3 linked regions of the Homo sapiens genome follow. The protein of the gene in region 2 purifies or fractionates together with the protein of the main gene of each other region. This does not show direct contact. Each region holds a gene or a part of one and is shown on either strand. Other genes may lie near its edges.

Region 1 (7,108 bases), on a different chromosome or scaffold from region 2:
GACCATCTGACTGGGAGAAGTCATTTCTAGGTAAAGTGTCCATCTTTTTCTGAGGAACACAGGAGGAAAATCTTACAGAAAAGAGTTAACACAGCAGGCCTAAGACTGCTTTTTAAAATAAATAAATAAATAAATAAATAAATAAATAAATAAATAAATAAATAAATAAATGAATGATAGGGTCTTCTGTATTGGCCAGGCTAGTCTCAAATTCCTGGCTTCAAGAGATCCTCCCACCTTGGTCTCCCACAGTGTTGGGATTATAGACATGAGCCATTGTGCTTGGCCCAAGACTGTTATTCTTAAAAAGTCTCATAAAAAGCATGGTTAATCCTTGGCTGGCACCTGGGAACTTAGATTTCAGAAGGGTTCCCACCATCCAACCTGGAAAGAGGGACTCACTGTGCCTAAATTATTGTGTGGTTTATGCTGAACTCCTGCTTTTCTTCAGGTAGCGTGGAATGTGGTATGTGCTGGGCAAAGGGGGCCTGCATGACCAGCCCCCAATAAAAACCCTGGGTGTTGGGTCTCTAGTGAGTTTCCCTGGTAGACAGCATTTCACATGCGTTGTCACAGCTCCTTCCTCGGGGAGTTAAGCACATACATCCTGTGTGACTGCACTGGGAGAGGATGCTTGGAAGCTTGTGCCTGGCTTCCTTTGGACTTGGCCCCATGCACCTTTCCCTTTGCTGATTGTGCTTTGTATCCTTTCACTGTAATAAATTACAGCCGTGAGTACACCACATGCTGAGTCTTCCAAGTGAACCACCAGATCTGAGCATGGTCCTGGGGGCCCCCAACACAGAAATAAATTATAAAAGACCAAGGACTGGGCATGGTGGCCCATGCCGGTAATCTCAGCGCTTTGGGAGGCCGAGGCAGGAGGACCAGTTAAGCCCAAAAGTTCAAAGTTACAGTGACCTATGACTGCGCCAATGCACTCTAACCTGGGAGACAGAGCAAGACCCTGTCCCCAAAACAATAAACTAAACACATACTTCTGCCTTCCAAGTGTCTTAAAATTCAATGGAATGGTAGAAACATTTTTAAAACACTAAATCAAAAGAAACCTGGAAAACAAGAGTGCCGATGGCCAACTAAAATGTCTAGGAAATTTCTGAAAAGTAAAAAGTACTCAGAACCAGATTACCTGAGCAAACCATAGCCCAATACAAGCTTGGGAGGAGGCTGTTATGCAGAAGGAAATGGTAACAGGTTTCCAGGAACAGACTTGTAACAGCAGATAGAACAGCAGAGGTAGAACCTGACAAGGTGATTACCTGGGGAACTGCAGTCTGAATGACCAGGACTGTTGGACCCTTCCCCTCACATGGAATACACACGCCACTCAGCAGCACACCACAGCTCTTCAACAATCACAGGAGGCACGCTACGCCTAGTAAGACAGGAAAAAAGGAATTCTCAAACTTCGAAGATGAACACATAAAGAATCACCAAGTTTTTATTCAGTATGATGAAACAGGGACACTGAATCAACAGAACACAAACCCAAGCAAAGATAATTACTAGAGCACATAGAAGAAATTATTAGATATTCTTGGGAAGACCTAAGGGGACATTATAAAGAGCAAGCAGTTGGTATGTGACGATCTTTGTGATATACCAAGAAATAAAAACACAGGATGAAGACCAGATAGAGAATAATGCTACTATTTGTGCAAAAAAGGAGAAATGGAGAATCTGATTCATATTTGCTTGTATTTGCATGAAGAAACTTTGGAAGGTACATAAGTAACTAACAACAATGGTTACCTACTTGTAAGGCGAGAGAAGTAAGAGGACAGGAATGGTGGGAACACCTTTTGTGTCCGGAATTGGTGGGTTCTTGGTCTGACTTGGAGAATGAAGCCGTGGACCCTCGCGGTGAGCGTAACAGTTCTTAAAGGCGGTGTGTCTGGAGTTTGTTCCTTCTGATGTTTGGATGTGTTCGGAGTTTCTTCCTTCTGGTGGGTTCGTAGTCTCGCTGACTCAGGAGTGAAGCTGCAGACCTTCGCGGCGAGTGTTACAGCTCTTAAGGGGGCGCATCTAGAGTTGTTCGTTCCTCCTGGTGAGTTCGTGGTCTCGCTAGCTTCAGGAGTGAAGCTGCAGACCTTCGAGGTGTGTGTTGCAGCTCATATAGACAGTGCAGACCCAAAGAGTGAGCAGTAATAAGAACGCATTCCAAACATCAAAAGGACAAACCTTCAGCAGCGCGGAATGCGACCGCAGCACGTTACCACTCTTGGCTCGGGCAGCCTGCTTTTATTCTCTTATCTGGCCACACCCATATCCTGCTGATTGGTCCATTTTACAGAGAGCCGACTGCTCCATTTTACAGAGAACCGATTGGTCCATTTTTCAGAGAGCTGATTGGTCCATTTTGACAGAGTGCTGATTGGTGCGTTTACAATCCCTGAGCTAGACACAGGGTGCTGACTGGTGTATTTACAATCCCTTAGCTAGACATAAAGGTTCTCAAGTCCCCACCAGACTCAGGAGCCCAGCTGGCTTCACCCAGTGGATCCGGCATCAGTGCCACAGGTGGAGCTGCCTGCCAGTCCCGCGCCCTGCGCCCGCACTCCTCAGCCCTCTGGTGGTCGATGGGACTGGGCGCCGTGGAGCAGGGGGTGGTGCTGTCAGGGAGGCTCGGGCCGCACAGGAGCCCAGGAGGTGGGGGTGGCTCAGGCATGGCGGGCCGCAGGTCATGAGCGCTGCCCCGCAGGGAGGCAGCTAAGGCCCAGCGAGAAATCGGGCACAGCAGCTGCTGGCCCAGGTGCTAAGCCCCTCACTGCCTGGGGCCGTTGGGGCCGGCTGGCCGGCCGCTCCCAGTGCGGGGCCCGCCAAGCCCACGCCCACCGGGAACTCACGCTGGCCCGCAAGCACCGCGTACAGCCCCGGTTCCCGCCCGCGCCTCTCCCTCCACACCTCCCTGCAAAGCTGAGGGAGCTGGCTCCAGCCTTGGCCAGCCCAGAAAGGGGCTCCCACAGTGCAGCGGTGGGCTGAAGGGCTCCTCAAGCGCGGCCAGAGTGGGCACTAAGGCTGAGGAGGCACCGAGAGCGAGCGAGGACTGCCAGCACGCTGTCACCTCTCACTTTCATTTATGCCTTTTTAATACAGTCTGGTTTTGAACACTGATTATCTTACCTATTTTTTTTTTTTTTTTTTGAGATGGAGTCGCTCTCTGTCGCCCAGACTGGAGTGCAGTGGTGCCATCCTGGCTCACTGCAAGCTCCGCCTCCCGGGTTCACACCATTCTCCTGCCTCAACCTCCTGAGTAGCTGGGACTACAGGCAATCGCCACCACGCCCAGCTAATTTTTTATTTTATTTTTTTTTTAGTAGAAGCGGAGTTTCACCATGTTAGCCAGATGGTCTCAATCTCCTGACCTCGTGATCCATCCGCCTCGGCCTCCCAAAGTGCTGGGATTACAGACGTGAGCCACTGCGCCCTGCCTATCTTACCTATTTCAAAAGTTAAACTTTAAGAAGTAGAAACCCGTGGCCAGGCGTGGTGGCTCACGCCTGTAACCCCAGCACTTTGGGAGGCCGAGGCGGGCGGATCACGAGGTCAGGAGATCGAGATCATCCTGGTTAACACAGTGAAACCCCGTCGCTACTAAAAATACAAAAAATTAGCCGGGCGTGGTGGTGGGCACCGGCAGTCCTCGCTACTGGGGAGGCTGAGGCAGGAGAATGGCGTGAACCTGGGAGGCAGAGCTTGCAGTGAGCCGAGATAGTGCCATTGCCTTCCAGCCTGGGCGACAGAGCGAGACTCCACCTCAAAAAAAAAAAAAAAAAATAGAGACCCGGAAAGTTAAAAATATGATAATCAATATTTAAAAACACTCAAGAGATGGGCTAAAGAGTTGACGGAACAAATCTAAATATTAGATTGGTGACCTGCAAAACCAGCCCAAGGAACATCCCAGAATGCAGCCCATAAAGATAAAGAGAGCATTTCCGCTGGGCACAGTGGTATGGCAGGGGAATTGCCTGAGTCCAAGAGTTGCAGGTCACATTGAACCACACCATTGCACTCCAGGCCTGGGCAACACAGCAATACTCTGTCTCAAAAAAAAAAAAAATTAAATTAAAAAAGACAGAATATTTGAGAGAAAAAAATGCTTATTTCAAGAAACATGAAAGATAAATCAAGATATTCTAATTCCCAAGTAAGAATAATTCCAGAAGCAGAAAATAGAATAGAGGCAAGGAAACACTCAAAACTTCTCCAGTGCCATAGAAATGTGTATTAATCTTTAGAATGAAACGGACTACCAAATGCTGAGCAGGAAGAACAAAAGAGATCCACTCTTAAGCCAGTGTGGTGCCCAAGCGCAGTGGCTCATGCCTGTAATCCCAGCACTTTGGGAGGCCGAGGCAGGTGGATCACCTGAGGTCAGGAGTTTGAGATCAGTCAGGCCAACATGGTGAAACCCTGTCTGTACTAAAAATACAAACATTAGCTGGGTATGGTGGTGCACATCTGTAATCCCAACTACTTGGGAGGCTAAGGCAGGAGAATCACTTGAAACCAGGAGGTGGAGGTTGTAGTGAGCCGAGATCATGCCACACTCCCAGCCTGGGTGACAGAGCAAGATTCCATCTCAAAAAAAAAATCCACTCCTAGACAAATAATAGTTAAATTTTAGAACACCAAGGAGAAAGAAAAAAAATTGTAAAGCTTCAGAGAAAATAAACATTAACTACAAAGAAACGAGAGTCAGACGCGTGCACTTCTTCCTAGATACCAGCAGATAAAGCAATATCTCCAAAATTCAGAAGGTTTTAACGTAGAATCCTATACCCAGTCAAGAATATTCACATGGAAAAGTGAAATAAAAAACATTGTTTAAACATGCAAGGGTTCAGAAAGTTTACCATTCACAGAATCCCTGAAAACAAAACCAAATAATCACTTAAGGACTCATTAAGAAAACAAATGAAATAAAAGCACCAATGATGAGTAAATAATCAGAAAAATTTACAGTTTACCTAAATAACTGTTTATGCATAATGTATGAAAACCCAAAAATTTAATATGGGACAGAATTAAAATCATGATAAGATTCTTTTTTGCTTTACTCATGGAGAGTTCACATAAACAGATTATCTTTTAATAGCAAGAGAAAAAAATGTTTAGATATGTGTGAAAAACTAAGGGTACCAAAACAGTGCAAATTCATTTATCATCAGGAAAATCCAAATTAAAACCACAGTATCCACCAGAATAACTAAAAGGTAAAAGACAGAAATTACCAAGAGTTGGCAAGAATGTGGAGCAACCACATATACTTCTGGGGTAAATAAGTTGGTGCAACCGGTACTGAAAACTGTTTGCTAGTATCTACTAAAACCGAGCACATGCACAGACTACAACCAAGCAGTTCCACTCCCAGATACACACTCAACAGAAATGCACACACTCACTCAACAAAAGACGTGTACTAGAGTGTTCATGTACTTACTATTCATAATAGTCCAAAAATGCAAACAACCAACTGCCAATCAAAGTCAAATGTATATCTATATTAGGGATATATACAATGGCATATACACAGCAATGAGAATGAAATGAACCAGCTCGGCACAGTGGTTCATGCCTGTAATCTCAGCACTTTGGGCGGGTAAGGCAGGCAGATCACTTGAGGTCAGAAATTTGAGACTAGCCTGGCCAACACGGTTAAAACCTGTCCCCACTAAAAACACAAAAATTAGCCGGGCATAGTGGTTGCAGGCCTGTAATTCCAGCTACTCGGGAGGCTGGGTTGGGAGAATCGTTTGAACCCGAAAGCCGGAGGTCGCAGTGAGCGGAGATCGTGCCACTGCACTCCAGCCTGGACGATAGAGCAAGACTCCGTCTCAAAAAAGGAAATCAAAAATATAAAATAAGATGACAGGAATAATCCGCAAAAGATCAGTAATCAAAATAAATATAAATGGGCTAAAGCTACCTATTAAAAGACAAAGATTTCACACCCATAAGGATAGCTACTATCAAAAAAAGAGAGAGAATAACAGATGTTAGCAAGGATGTATGGAAACTGAAATTCTCACGCATTGCTGGTGAGAATATAAAATGGTTCAGCCTCTGCGGAAAACACTATGCTGGGTCATCAAAAAATTAAAAATAGAAGTACTACTTGATCCAACAATTCTACTTCTGGGTATATACCCAAATAACTGAAAGCAGGGTCTTGAAGAGATATTTGTACACCCATGATCATGGCAGCATTATTCATAATAGCTATGATGTGGAACCAACATAAATATCCTTTGATAAATATATGGATAAGCAAAATGTGGTGTATACATTCAATGGAATATTAATTAGCAATAAAAATGAAGAAAATTCTGACACATGCTACAACATGGATGAACCTTGAGGGCATTACATTAAATGAAATAAGCCAGTTATAAAAAGACAAATACTATATGAGGTACTATATTAGATACTCATGCAAGGTACCTAAAATAGGCAAATTCATAGAGACAAAAAGCAGAATGGTGGTTGCCAGGGGCTGCGGTAATGGATACAGAGCTTCAATTTTGTAAGATGAAAAAATTCTGGAGATTGGTTGCATAACAATGTGCACACACTTAACACTGGGGAACTGTAAACTTAAAAGTAGTAAATGGTAAAAATAAAAATAATAAATAATAAATTTTATGTTATTTTACCACAATATTTATTAAAAGACAAAGATTAACTAATTAAACAAAATCCAGCCATAAGCTAATGGTAAGAGTAACAATTAAAGAAGACACAGAAAATTGAAAATCAGTGACTAGAAAAAGATATTCCATATAAATGCTAACAAAAAGCAAGTACAGCAATATAAAGAGAATGAACAAAAAAAAAATTAAATAAGATGGCTCGTTTATTCCCAAAAGGTACAATTCACCAAGAAGATACAAGAATTGTGAACCTTTAAGCACATAAAACAGCTTCAAAAATACAACATTTAAAGAAAAATATATATTAAACATAGAAATAGTACAAAAACCCCTACAAGAATCATAATGGGAGTCTTCAATACAACTCTCCATATCAACAGGTCAAACAGAGAAAAAAAATAAGTTAAGGATGCAGAAAACCTGAATTACCA
Region 2 (7,588 bases):
TTAGCTTACTGAGTGTTGGTCTTCAAGTCAATGGGACAATGTCCTACCCATGCCCTGTGATTAACAAGCCATGCCATTATGCAAAAGTCTTTCTTCTTTGTTTCCCAATTTCCAAAGCCTACTAAAATGAAGACTCTCTTTACTCTGAAGTATTATGATTCTAAGAGGAAGTAAAACTAAAATTTGAATAACAAAGAGCCTGAAGGTGAAACTAATTGCCTAAAGTCTCAATAGCAACAAATCTGCAGAGAGAAGTAATGTAAAGATGAGGAAGAAAAAGAAATACAGTGCAATATCTCATGTGATAAAGGTTTGCAATCATGGGTAAATAAATCTCACACTTCAGAGAGAAAACACTTAAAATTCAGTTAGATAAGATTAAGACAATTAAGGCACAACATTGGCCAAATCTAACTCACAGACAAAGAAATACGCAGTGGAACTTCCTACCCAAATTAGGTGAAACAATAAAACCAGAAGTGAAAATAAATTAATTAAAGCTCACCTTCAAAATAGTATCTGAGGCAAAAGGGACCCCAGCGGCTCCATGATTTGTATTTTGTTCCCAAGAGGCATTGTCACAGACGAGATCTTGCGCGGGAACCAATTCCGGGGTTATGTTCAGAAAATTGAACTCTGTCTTGGCTGATTGTGAGGCAACACACAGGTTGTAGGAATAGGGCAATGTACCCTCACTGTAATTGGGGAGAACCCCAGGTCCAGGCTTGGAGCTGAGACCAGGCTGAAAACAGTCCCAAGCATCTGACCTGGAAGAGAGTCGCAGGCGCAGGGAGATTGCCAGAATCACCGCGAGGAAGAAGAGCACTGAGATCAAGGCCAAGGCCACAACCAGGTAAAACTGCAGTTTTGCCTGGGGGTCAGAGGGCTCCCGGCGGTCGCTGAGGTCTGGCAATACCTCTTGCAGGCTATCCGCGAAGATTAGGTGCAGCGTGGCCGTAGCGGAGAGTGGCGGCTGTCCTCCATCACGCACAGCGACCAGCAGGCGCTGGCGGGCCGCGTCCCTGTCGCCCAAGGCACGCGCTGTGCGCACCTCACCCGTGCGCAACCCCAGGCTGAAGAGCCCGGGCTCGCTGGCCTGCAGCACGTGGTAGGACAGCCAAGCGTTGTGTCCTGAGTCTGCGTCCACCGCCACCACCTTGGTCACCAGGTAGCCGGGCTCTGCGGCGCGTGGCACCATATCGAAGAGGGCGGAGCCATCAGGCCCCAGCGCGGGGTACAGCACCCGTGGCGCATTGTCATTGAGGTCGCCCACTAACACGCGCAGGCTCACGTTGGCGCTGAGCGCGGGCGAGCCCTGGTCGCGGGCCTGCAGTGTGAGCTCGAAGGCGCGCAGCTGCTCATGATCGAAGGCGCGCTGCGCGAACACCACCCCGCTCTGCGCGCTCACGGACACGTAGGATAAAATCTCCCGCGGCTTCAGGTCGCTCGCTACGATGGAGTAGGAAACTTGGCCACTGGGGCCCAAGTCAGGGTCAGAGGCACTGATTTGAGCGATAGAGGCGCCAGGAGGATTGTTCTCTGCCACGTGAACCATGTAGGAAGTCTGTTGGAAAACTGGGGCATTATCGTTGACGTCGGAGATGTGCAGGGTGACAATTATGCTGGAGGAGAGGGGCGGCTTGCCCCCGTCGGTGGCTGTGATGGTGAGATTGTATTCTGGGATCTCCTCCCGGTCCAGAGCGCCGTCTGTCACTAGTTTGTAATAGTTCTTTGAGGAAGATTTCAAAATAAACTTGGCATTTCCCAACACTTGGCAGTAAACTTCTCCATTTTCTCCAGAGTCTCTGTCTCTCGTTTTTATCAAGGCGATCACTGTTCCTGGTGGCGAATCCTCCGGTAGGGGAGTAGATACTGAAGTCACAATAACTTCAGGTGCACAATCGTTGTCATCAAGAATTTCAACTTGGATACTGCAGTGGGCTGCTAGATCTCCAGGATCTTTTGCTTCGATACTCAGAGTGTAACTACTTGCAATCTCAAAATCCAAATCATCCTTTGTCGTGATTTCTCCTGTTTTTTCATTTAAGTTGAAAAAGTGTTTCACTTGTTCGTCCACATTATGAAAGGAGTAGGTGATCTCTGCGTTTATGCCTTCATCCCGGTCGGTGGCTGTCACTTGAAGCACAAAGAAGCCCGGCGGCACGTCCTCCCTCAGGGTGACCCTGTACACGTCCTGGCTGAACACTGGAGGGTTATCGTTGGCATCCGTGACTTTGATTCGGATTTGGGTCGTGCCACTTTGAGGTGGGTCTCCGCCATCCACAGCTGTGAGGACCAATTGATGTAAACTGTGCTCTTCTCTGTCCAGAGAGTGTTTTAGAATCAACTCAGGATATTTACGACCATCTGGAGTCTGTTTCTCAGCGAGATCAAAGTACTCGTTGTCATTAAGGTGGTATCTTTGTAGTGAGTTAGGACCAACATCTGAATCCAGGGCTGGGTCAAGTGGAAATGTTGTACCTGGCTTAGTGGATTCGCCAATTTTTAAATTAATCTTAGTCTGTTTGAATAGCGGGGTATTATCATTTATATCCTGCACAATTACTGCTATGTAGAAAATATTTAGTGGATTTTCAGCGACAGTATCGAAATCCAGAACACACAGAGGCTGCTTCCCGCATATCTGTTCTCGGTCTATTCTGTCACTCACAAGTAAGTCTCCGCTTTCTGGGTTTACTGTGAAATATTCCTTCTCCGCGCTAACCCGCAGCTTCCGGGCTGGCAAGTCCCGGACGCTGAGCCCCAGATCCTTGGCGAGGTTTCCTACGACCGAGTTTTTGGCCAGCTCCTCTGGAATTGAATAGCGGATCTGGACTGGGAGAGCCCCGGGGAACAAAGACAACAGGAAGGGCAACAGTACCTGCAGCCACCGCACCAGCCCGCACCTCCCTGAGCTCGCTTTCATCTTCTGGCTCCCTTTGCTCCTTTGCCCATAGGAGGAATAAGCCTTCCGGGGATGGCAGAATCCGGGCTAAGGTCACTTTTCCTGCTTTTGTTTTCTGTTTCCGAATCTATACTGGCCTTCTCTGTGTGGTTGGTTTGTGCAGGAAGTTCCCCTCTAAGAGGCTCCCAAACGCTTCTCTTCGTTCTTTTGACCAACAGCGACGCTCAGAGGTTTTCTCAGGAAACTGCACTAATGGCTTGTCAATATTTGCTAAGAACTTTTTTCTTTTCTTTTCTTTTTTAATTTATAAAGTCTTCATTTGTTTTAAAATATGTGAAATATTCATATAGTTCCAAATTCAAAAGATGCATTCAGCATAGGTTCTTCCTTTCATCTCTGCTTTAGATGAGGAGAAATGCTTTCACAGGGGAAATGAGTGTTAAAGTTTCTTAGGTATCCTTCCGGAGATATGTCTTGTATAGGGCAACGGATTTTTATAAATATTCTGTCTCCTTCTTTACACAAATGTAAGCATACAACATACCATATTCTGCACATTGCTTTTTTAGTTGTTATATCTTAAAGATCATATCAGTACATAGAGAGCTTTCCTATTTATTTCTTATAGTTATCTAGTGGCCCATAATATAGTTATCTAGTAGTCCGTAATATGAATATACAACAATTTGTTTAATCAAAATTGTTATTTGCTAAAAGAAACCCACTGCCCATTCTAACAAAAACACATTTTTTAAAAAATTTGATTTTAGGTTATAAATTATCTACTGCTTTCCTAGGCCTTTAAAACATGTGGCACTCTCATTCTGGAATATATTCCTAATGCCAACACCTGAATATGCTTGACACAGTTTCAGACCAATTGAGCATTTCCAAATTATATTTTATGGCTTAATTACTTTAAACAATCTCTCCTCAGATGTAAGTTGTCTCTCAACATTCACTTGTTATTTCTGCTTTCTGCTCCCCAAGCCAGGTAACTGCATCATATCATATTCCAGCTTACTCTATGTATTGCACCACAACTTTCTATGAATACAAAACCATGTAGAAACTAAAACTCTCCTTTGTAAGTCAAATTGAGGCATATTCCACAGTCTATCACTACAACTTCCAGTTATCAAATTACACTAATTTGTGTAAGCATATGCATTCATGAATTTTGAATTCTCACAGAACCTAAATGAAAGCACAAAGAACAAAAGTGTTGTATATCCCCTACACACAAAATATTTTCCCTCATATAAAATAATCCCAGAGCCACATGATGACAGAAATATCTGAAAGCAATTTGTAGCAATAGGGATGAGGCCACCTTACTAAGCAGCGTAAATCATATCAGTCCAGAACCCAAGTAACTCAACCTTTGAAAGAGGCTCACATGATGACAAGAGAAAAGACTCCAAAAACTTATATTTTCCTTGGAAATCAAGAAAGTCTCAATAGTGATGTCATGATAAGCAATTTAAAAATTATTAAAGTTACTCCTAGAATCTACTTATATATGACTGAAATTAGCTTGGAAATATTTCTCATAATCACAGGAGTGCACCAGAGGAATCACACATAGTCACTTCTGGTGCATCTCAGAACAGCAACAAGAAAATATTTGAAATATACCAGTTCATTGAGAAAATATCCTGTTAAAGTTATATCTAAAAGTTAAACTCACAAATTGCCAGTATTCTTAAATTGACGTTGCCTGTTATAATGGAAAATACCCTTTCAAGGAAGGAAAAGTAAACTTCAAGCAAAGCATGGTAGAGTGTGAAAATAGGAAATTAAAAAACCCTCAGTCCAGATCCAACAATAGCTTCATGAGAAAGAATATTGTAAATGTGAATTTACACAATTGCCTTCTATTTTACAGGTCTCTTGTATCTTTTCAGGAACACCTAAGAGAAAAGGAAATTTATTCTTTATTTTACTTTATTTTATTTTACTTTTTGGAGACAGAGGCTTGCTCTGTTGCCCAGGCTGGAGTACAGTGTCATGATCTCAGCTCATTGCAACCTCTGCCTCCCAGGTTCAAGCAATTCTCATGCCTCAGCCTCCAGGGTAGCTGGGACTACGGGCACACACCACCACGCCTAGCTAACTTTTTGTATTTTAGTAGAGACTGGGTTTCACCATGTTGCCCAGACTGGTCTCGAACTCCTGAGCTCAGGCAATCCGTCCTCCTCACACTCCCAAAGTGTTAGGATTACAGGTGTGAGCCACCACACCCAGCACAGAAAAGGAAATTTAAGGAAATGAGGTGGCTCAGAGTTGTAAAATTAGAAAATTCTGGCTGAAACTACAACTGAATGAAGACCAAAAAGGATAAGTAATAAACAACATTTTTGTGTGGTAAATACTGTTGATCATTATTGGAAGGTCATCCACCAGTTTTCTTTAAAGCAATAAAATATTAAAAGAGGCAACTTTATTTGATATATTACATATAAAATGAGAGACATTTACACAACTCTTTGTCTATATTTCAGTGTGGTATGATCTATTATAAGATTGACTCACCTGAAGATTAGGGTCTCCTTTTGTTTCAAGTAAATCCTGAGTTATCAGAAGAGGCTCGCTTTTCTCACAACTCTCCCGGCTGATGAGCGTGTCTGCATAGCTGGGTTGGGAGAAGATCAGGTGACTCTTCCGCGAGTCCGCGGTGAGGGAGACCTCGTGGGAATAGGTCTGCAGGAAAGCCCGAACCCCGTCCACGCCCACAAAGTGCGAGGCAGGCACACCTGCCAACCTGCTGCCTTCAGCGTGAAGCAGGCGTGACTTGTGCCAGCGTCTCAGCTTGAGTGCTAGCAGCACCGTGACAAAAGCCAGGAAGACGCAGGAGACAGCGGCCACTGCCACCACGAGATAGAGTGTGAGGCCCGAGTCGTCTGGGTCTGCTGAAGGCTTGAGGCTGCCCAAGTCAGCCAGGACATCTGGGATGCTGTCGGCCACAGCCACAGTGAGTGTGACGGTGGCCGAGAGAGGGGGCTGGCCATGGTCCTGGACGACCACTACAAGCCTCTGCTTGAGCGCGTCTCTGTCCAGCAGGGCCCGTGCGGTGCGCACCTCGCCTGTGTGCAGCCCCACTGCAAATAGTCCCGGCTCGCTGGACTTGAGTAGGCTGTAGGACAGCCAGGCATTCTGACCTGAGTCTCTGTCCACTGCCACCACTTTGGTCACCAGGTAGCCGGAATCTGCGGAGCGGGGTGCCAGCTCCACACCAGTGGAGCCATCAGTAGGGAAGGTGGGGTACAGGATCTCAGGGACATTGTCGTTCTGGTCCAGCACAAAGAGGCTCAGTGACACATTGCTGCTGAGTGGAGGGTCTCCACTGTCACTGGCTGTCATCAGCAGCTGCAGGTCTCTAAACTGCTCATAGTCGAAGGAGCAAAGAGCATATAGGATCCCTGTATTGGAGTTGATGGAGACATAGGAGGACAGAGGTGCACCCTGGAAGGTGTCTTCGGCCAGGGAGTAAGTGATTCGGGCATTGTCACCACTGTCAGGGTCTTGAGCAGTCATAGATAAGATGGAGGCTCCTCTGGGGTTGTTTTCAGGAATGTAAGCAGAGTAGGAAGCATGAGGGAAAGTGGGTGGGTTGTCATTGATGTCCATCACTTGCAGTGAAATATGAGTTTCTGTAGACAGTGGAGGAGTTCCCTGGTCAGTGGCAGTTACAGTGATGTTATATTCTGAGACTTCTTCCCTGTCCAGTGTTCTGTGTGTCAACAACCGATAATAATTTCCATAGGTCTTTTCAAGTGTGAATGGCAGATTATCTGGAATAGAACATGTGACTAGGCCATTTCCTCCTGAGTCACTGTCATGCACGTTGAAAAGTGCAATTACTGTACCCGGGGAAGAAGATTCCTGGACTGAGCTGGTGAGAGATGTAACTGTGACTTCTGGTGCGTTGTCATTTTCATCCAGAACTGTCACCAGTACCTTGCTTCTAGCTCGGAGACCAGGCCCATCATGGGCTTCTACATCTATGTCATAGAATCCAGAGTCCTCATAATCTAGACCCCCCAATATTGTTATATCCCCACTCAGAGAATTCAACTGAAATAGCTGTGATATTTTGTCTCTTACTTTCCGGAAAGAATACGTCACGTCTCCATTGGCTCCTTCATCTGGATCAGTGGCTTTTACGGTGAGTAGCCGAGTGCCTACAGGAACGTTCTCACGAACACTTACGTGGTACTCGGGCTGAGTGAACACGGGAGCATTATCGTTGGTATCCACAAGTATTATGAGAATCCTGGCAGTGCCAGAGCGAACCGGGTCACCTCCATCGAAGGCCGTGAGAACGAGGTGGTGAACCGCCTCTTCCTCGCGATCTAGAGCGCGTTCCAGCACCAGCTCTGGGTACTTAATCCCATCGGCCCCACTTTGCACGTCCAGGGAAAAGTAACCGTTTGAGTTGAGCTGGTAACCCTGCAGGGAGTTTACACCTACATCCGGATCAAAAGCTTCAGGAAGAGGAAATCTTGCCCCAGGATTTTCATTTTCAGCAACTTTTATTTCCCTCTGTTCTGTCCCAAAACTGGGTGGGTTATCATTAACATCGATTATTTCCACCTCTACCCGCAAAATCTTCACTGTATCTTCTAGAAGAATCTCCAGGTTTGTCACACAGTTTGGAGATCTGTCGCAGAGCTCCTCCCT
Region 3 (7,108 bases), on a different chromosome or scaffold from region 2:
GTGGTCTGTGCCTGGAGCTGCTTTGACCAATAGTGTGGTGGAAATGACGCTGGAAGATTCCAGGCCTTGCCCTTAAATAACCTGCAGCTTCTGCTTCTTCCCTCATGAAAATCTGGCTGTTGGGGAGTCCTGAGCAGCCATGTGAGATATTCAGCTACCCTGCAGGAAAGACCACGTGGAGAAGAGAGGCCCAGAGGCTACGCTGAGAGGGAACCAACTCCCCAGTCCCAGTGCCAGTTCCAGATGACTCCAGCCCAGCCACCTCCACCTGCACCTGGATGAGAGCCTGCCAAGCAGCAACCAGCAAAAGAACTGTCCGGCTGAGCCCAGGCAAGCCACAAAGGTAACAGAAACTAAGAGTGACTGGGTTTTTTGTTTGTTTGCCTTTTTGAGACAGGGTCTTGCTCTGTTGCCCAGGCTGGAGTGCTGTGGCACGATCTCGGTTCACTGCAGCCTCCACCTCTCTCAGGTTCAAGCGATTCTCCTGCCTCAGCCTCCTGAGAAGCTGGGACCACAGGTACCCGCTAAATTTTTGTATTTTTAGTAAAGAAAGGGTTTTGCCATGTTGCCCAGGCTAGTCGCGAACTCCTGGCCTGAAGTGATCCACCCACCTCAACCTCCCAAAGTGCTGAGATTACAGGCATGAGCCACTGCACCTGGCTAAGAGTTACTACGGTAAGCCACCAAGCTTTGGATCAGATGGCTATGTAGAAAAAGAAAACTGAAACCAAGTCCATGGCCTAAATTCATAAGAATGGCCACAGAGCTGAGCACTTCTGAAAAAATGACCTCAGCAACCTGAATGAATGATCATGGTGTATCTGTTTCCCACGGCCACTATAACAAACTACCACAAATGCAGTGGCTTAAAACAGCACAAATTATTATTATTATTTGAGACAGGGTCTTGCTCTGTCACCCAGGCTGGAGTGCAGGGGTGCGGTCACAGCTCACTGCAGCCTCATTCTCCTGGGCTCAAGCAATCCTGCCGCAGCCTCCTGAGTGGCTAAAACTATAGGCATGCATCACCATGCCCCACTAATTGTTTTTTATTTTTAGTAGGGACAAGGTCTCGCTTTGTTGCCCAGGCTGGTCTTGAACCCCTGGGTTCAAGTGATCCTCCTGCCTCGACCTTCTAAAGTGCTGGGATAACAGGCATGAACCACCGCACCTGCCCTAAATTTATTATTTTACAGTTCCAGAAGTCAGAAGTCTGAAATGGGGGCCAGTTGTGGTGGCTCACGCCTGTAATCCCAGCACTCTGGGAGGCCAAGGCGGGTGGATCACCTGAGGTCAGGAGTTGAAGACCAGCTGGCCAACATGGTGAAACCCCCGTCTCTACTGATAATACAAAAATTAGGGCATGCGCCTGTAATCCCAGCTATTCAGGAGGCCAAGGCAGGAGAATCGCTTGAAACCGGGATGCAGAGGTTGCAGGGAGCTGAGATCATGCCACTGTAATCCAGCCTGGGCGACCATGTGAGACCCCCTCTCAAAAAACAAAACAAAACAAAACAAAAAACTGGGCGCAGTGGCTCACGCCTGTAATCCCAGCACTTTGGGAGGCCAAGGCAGGTGGATCACCTGAGGTCAGGAGTTCAAGACCAGCCTAGCCAACATGGTGAAACCCTATCTCTACTAAAAATACAAAAAATTAGCCAGGTGTGGTGGTGGGTGCCAGGTGTGGTGGTGGGTGCTACTCAGGGGACTGAGGCAGGAGAATCGCTTGAACCCAGGAGGCAGAGATTGCAGTGAGTTGAGATCGTGCCACTGCACTGCAATCTGGGCAACAAGAATGAAACTCCATCCCCCCCCCCCCAAAAAAAAAAGTCCAAAATGGCTTTCACTAGGCTAATCTCAAGGTGTCCGCAGGGCTGTGTTCCTTTCTGAAGTCTCCAGTGGAGAATCCATCTCCTCGGCTTTTCCAGCTTCCAGAGGCTGCCCGCATTCCTTGGCTCATGCCTCCCTTCCTCCATCTTCAAGGCCAGCGGGGCAGCATCCCTCAAATCATTCCCTCTCTTGCCTCCCTCTTTCCCTTATAAGGACCCCTGTGATCACACTGACCTGACCTGCATAATTCAGGATCATCTCCCCATCCCCAAATCCTTCATTTGATCACATTTGCAAAGTCACCTTTGCTGTGCATGGTAACATATTCAACAGGTTCTTGGGATAAGGATGTGGACATCTTTGGGGGACCAGTCACTCTACTGCCTACTGTGTGTGATAAACCAGAAAAAGGACCAGTGCGCGCCAAAGGAATAAACACAGATGAGCTGGAATTTTCCTACTGCCCAGAGATATCTCACAGCCTCCCTGGGAGCACCAAAAGTGCACTTTGCAGGCATGGCCTCAACCTGCCTAACATCACCAACCTCCTTTACTTTTGGGTTAAAATAATTTAAACAAAGGAATTCTGTGTTTAAAAAGATCTTTGCCTCCCCAACAGGGTGCATCATCGATGATTTATGCTTCTAGCATGTACTGTTCTTTCCTCAGGCAGCCACAGCTACTGCTCCAGCCTCTCCTGTGAGACAGCTGGGCGCAGCCTGCTGAGTCAAAAGTATCTCAGCCAAAGGTACAGATACTGGATTTGCTGGTCAGCTCAGGACGCCTGACCTGAGAGAAAGCAGGGCCGCCAGTGCACCCTGGGAAATTCCAATCACCATGGCTGGGGGCCACAGCAAAGGGCAATCAGCAGTGTGAAGACACTAATGATGTAATTAAAAGGTGTAAATGTAAGAAGCCAGTACATTGCAATATCTGGTAGCATCTCCAACTCGACCTGTCCCTAACTGAGCTCCAGGTCTTTCTGTCCAACCTGCCCCTCCTCCAGTCGGCTGTCTCACACCCAATCCATGGGAAATCCTGCTGGCTCTACCTTGTAAACAAATCTACTGGTTATTCATTACTAAGAGGAAAAGGAAAGGTTCTTGACATGGTTACACCTTAACCAAGCGATCCAAATCACCATCACAAATGACAGAACAAATAGACCTCAGGAGTCCCCTGAAGGGATGTCCTTAGGAGGCACCTCGAGTCTGTGGTGTTCCCGCCAAACATGTTCAACATGAATCCAATCGGGGAAGCAATCAGGAGACTCCAGACATCGGGACACACTATCAATCAGAGGACTGGCTCCAATGTCAATGTCAAAAAACAAGGGCAGGGATACTATTCTAGAGCAGGGTCAGAAAACTCTTCCTGTAAAGGGGCAGAGAGTAAATATTTTAGATTTTGAGGCCAGGCGTGGTGGCTCACGCCTGTAATCCTGAAACTGCCTTTGCAAAATTATGACTGACACAGCAAAAGAGATCTAACTTGACTGACTCCATCTTACTTCCAACCTCCAAGCTGTCCTTGTTCATTCCTGAGTGAAGGCTGAACTAACTTTGGGAGAAACTTAGTTTATAGTTTAAACAAACATGGTAACAGCCCTTTCCCAAAGCAGACCTCCTTCTTGCCTGGTGACTAGATTGCCTTTGTAGGACTAACATTAGCCACAAGATTAGAAATTATGGTTTAGGAGTCATGCAGCTGGAGGATACAAGATTCTGACCCTCCCTAAACTGCTCCTAAGATCAGTGCTTGAGATATTCTGCAGACTCTGCACTTGATGGATCAGCTGGCCCCACCCAGATCAAAAAATTGGCTCATCTGATCTTGTGCCCGCCCTCCCCCTCCCCCACCGCCACCCAGGAACTAACTGAGCACAAGACATCTCTGAATTCCTATGATTTCATCTCTGACCAATCAGCACTCCTGGCTCACTGGCTTCCCCTCACCCACCAAGTTATCCTTAAAAACTCTGCTCCCGGGCCAGGCGTGGTGGCTCATGCCTGTAATCCCAGCACTTTGGGAGGCCAAGGCGGGCAGATCTCCTGACGTTGGGAGTTAGAGACCAGCCTGATCAACATGGAGAAACCCCATCTCTACTTAAAATACAAAATTAGCCGGGCGTGGTGGCGCATGCCTGTAATCCCAGCTACTCGGGAGGCTGAGGCAGGAGAATCACTTGAACCCGGGAGGCGGAAGTTGTGGTGAGCCAAGATCACACCATTGCACTCCAGCCTGGGTGTCGGAGTGCGACTCTGTCTCAAAAAATAAAATAAAATAAAATAAAACAGAACTCTGATATTGTCCTTCTGCTGCACAGAACCCTCCAGTAAGTCCTGTTCCACTCAGAGTAAAGCCAAGGCATTTGCAGTGACCCACAGGCCCCATACAAACTGTCCCCCTTTCCCGTCATCAGTTTCCTCTGTCCTGTGTGCCAGGCACGCTCATGCCTCAGGTCCTGTGTGCATGCGGGATCCTCTGGGCTGGAACGTTTCTTCCCCCAGATGGCAATGCTGCTCGTTCCCTCCCTCCTTGGCATATTTTCAGTGAGTTCTCCCTGACAATCCTATCTAGGCTTATAGCCTTCCTTTAAATACTCCTTGTTCTACAACCCTGATTTTTTTCCTAGAGCAATTATTGCTATCTAATATACTTCATCTTTTAACTATTTTTTGAGATGGAATCTCACTCTGTCACCCAGGCTGGAGTGCAGTGGTGCAATCTCGGCTCACTGCAACCTCTGCCTCTTGGGTTCAAGTGATTCTCCTGCCTAAGCCTCCTAAGTAACTGGGATTACAGGTGCCTGCCACCACACCTGGCTAATTTTTGTATTTTTAGTAGAGATGGGGTTTCACCATGTTGCCCAGGCTGGTCTCAAACTCCTGACCTCAAGTGATGCACCAGCCTCAGCCTCCCAAAGTGCTGGGATTACAGGCATGAGCCACTGGGCCCAGCCAACTATTTATTTCATTTATTGTCTGGCTTCCTCCACAAGAATGTAAGGTACCTGAGGGCAAGATGTTTTGCTTTTTCCTGCCTGTTGTATCTATAACATCTACGTGACAGCCATGACCCTATGCCAGGCACTGACTTAACATTTTATATCCATTTACTTAATCCTCACCACAACACAATAAATATTATTTACAGCATAATGCATACATAGTATATACACAAAATAATAATAATAATAATAATAGTATCTACCTCATCATAACTGGTGAGGACCCAGTGCCAGAGGCTGGAAGGTGCTGCAGACAAGCCGTGGCACAAAGTACAAGCCCAGTTAATGTGACCATTACATAATACCCAATGTACAGAATCGGAAATTGAAGCTAAGAGGGGCTAAATGACGTACCCAAAGTCACCAGTCTGGGTAGGGATTCAAACCTATGTCAGTCTGACTCCAGAAGCCATTTTCTTTCTTTTTTTTTTTCTTTTTTTTTTTTTGATATGGAGTCTCGCTCTGTCACCCAGGCTGGAGTGTAGTGGCACGATCTCGGCTCACTGCAACCTCCGCCTCCCATGTTCAAGTGATTCTTCTGCCTCAGCCTCCCGAGTAGCTGGGATTACAGGCGCGTGCCACCACGCCCAGCTAATTTTTGTATTTTTAGTAGAGAAGGGGTTTCACCATGTTGGTCAGGCAGGTCTTGAAATTTGACTTCGTGATCTGCCCACCTTGGCCTCCCAAAGTGTTGGGATTACAGGCGCGAGCCACTGCACCCGGCCTTTTTTTTTTTTTTTTTGAGACAGAGTTTCACTCTTGTTGCCCAGGCTGGAGTGCAATGGCGTGATCTCGGCTCACTGCAACCTCCACCTCCTGGGTTCAAGCGATTCTCCTGCCTCAGCCTCCCGAGTAGCTGGGATTACAGGCATGCGCCACCACGTCTGGCTAATTTTGTATTTTTAGTAGAGACGGGGTTTCTCCATGTTGGTGAGGCTGGTCTCTAATTCCCGACCTCAGGTGATCTGCCTGCCTCGGCCTCCCAAAGTGCTGGGATTATAGGTGGGAGGCACCGCGCCCAGCACAGAAGCCTATTTATTTATTTATTTATTTATTTATTTATTTATTGAGACAGAGTCTCGCTCTGTCGCCCAAGCTGGAGTGCAGTGGTGTGATCTTGGCTCACTGCAACCTCTGCCTCCCAGGTTCAAGCAATTCTCCTGCCTCAGCCTCCCAAGTAGCTGGGACTACAGGTGTGCGCCACCACACCTGCCTAATTTTGTATTTTGAGTAGAGACAGGGTTTCACCATGTTGGCCAGGCTGGTCTTGAACTCCTGACCTCATGATCCACCCACCTCCGCCTTCCAAAGTGCTGGGATTACAGGCATGAGCCACTGCGCCCAGCTCCAGAAGCCATTTTCTAAACCACAACGCTAAGAATGTCACAGTGTTTGGAAGACAGGCAGAGACAGGAAACAAACTGGGTCTAGGAATTCAGTGTCCAAAGTTTCGCCTCTGGCACAAATCTCTGCGTATGACCTGAGCAATTAACTGCTGCCCTCAACACCTCCATTTTCCCTTCTATAAACCAGAGGAAGTCATTCCTCTTTCCGGACATGGGGACAAAACAGTTGTGGGGGTCAAATGAGATGGCTAACAGGAAAGCACTTTGGTAACTGTGAAATCTAATACTTTCCCATTCTAAGAGCTGCAGCCCCAACAAAGACCCCACCAAACACCGAACAACCAAGAATTCCGGGCCCTGGAAAGCAAACTTTAAGCATCCAAACTTACAGAGGGGGAAAAAAAGTGCACTCCCTTAATCATGTGGGCTTTGTGTGTGCTCCTCCCTCTGCCCCAGTGCTTTCCTTACGCCTTGTCCTGGTGTTGTCCTCACCCTTCAGGTCCCAATTCAGATGTCTCCTCTGCCAGGAAGCCCTCCCTGAACCCCATGCCATGTCAGGTGCCCAGTGGGCTCCCCCATCTCAGCTCTGCCCACTGTTGGGGGATACGTCTGTCCCCCGCAGGACTAGGAATTCCTTGAGGGCACAGATTGGTGCTGGTTTGGTCCCTGCTGTTTCGCCAGCATTGCCAGCACAAGGCCTGGCACAGGGCAGAGGCTCACAAAATACCAGCTAAAGGAAATAATGAATGGATGGAGGGATGAATGGTGTGTAACCGCCCAAGGAGTTCACCTTGCCCGCTGCCTAGACAGAGCTGATTCATCAAGAGAGGAGAACTGCAAGACAAAGAGTAATTCACGCAGAGTTGGCTGTGCGGGAGGGTGTTTTGTTTGTTTGTTTGAGATTGAGACAGTCTTGCTCTGT

Evidence for each region.
Region 1: the proteins of PCDHGB2 (region 2) and SPECC1 purify together in Homo sapiens (co-immunoprecipitation; 2 studies listed by BioGRID and IntAct, with this or other methods). This does not show direct contact.
Region 3: the proteins of PCDHGB2 (region 2) and OPA3 purify together in Homo sapiens (co-immunoprecipitation; 2 studies listed by BioGRID and IntAct, with this or other methods). This does not show direct contact.

The regions. Positions count from the first base shown.
Region 1 is NC_000017.11:20,012,275-20,019,382, reverse strand, and holds part of SPECC1 (cytospin-B), read right to left. Parts: intron 2,239-7,108; exon of another isoform or gene 1,778-2,238; intron 1,397-1,777; exon of another isoform or gene 1,281-1,396; intron 1-1,280.
Region 2 is NC_000005.10:141,355,474-141,363,061, reverse strand, and holds the start of PCDHGB2 (protocadherin gamma-B2 isoform 1 precursor), read right to left. Parts: upstream 3,069-7,588; 5' UTR 2,927-3,068; coding exon 506-2,926; coding exon of another isoform or gene 491-505; intron 1-490. Other genes in the region: PCDHGA4 (protocadherin gamma-A4 isoform 1 precursor), read right to left, coding at 5,441-7,588. UniProt on the Homo sapiens protein: Potential calcium-dependent cell-adhesion protein. May be involved in the establishment and maintenance of specific neuronal connections in the brain.
Region 3 is NC_000019.10:45,574,729-45,581,836, forward strand, and holds part of OPA3 (optic atrophy 3 protein), read right to left. Parts: intron 1-7,108. UniProt on the Homo sapiens protein: May play some role in mitochondrial processes.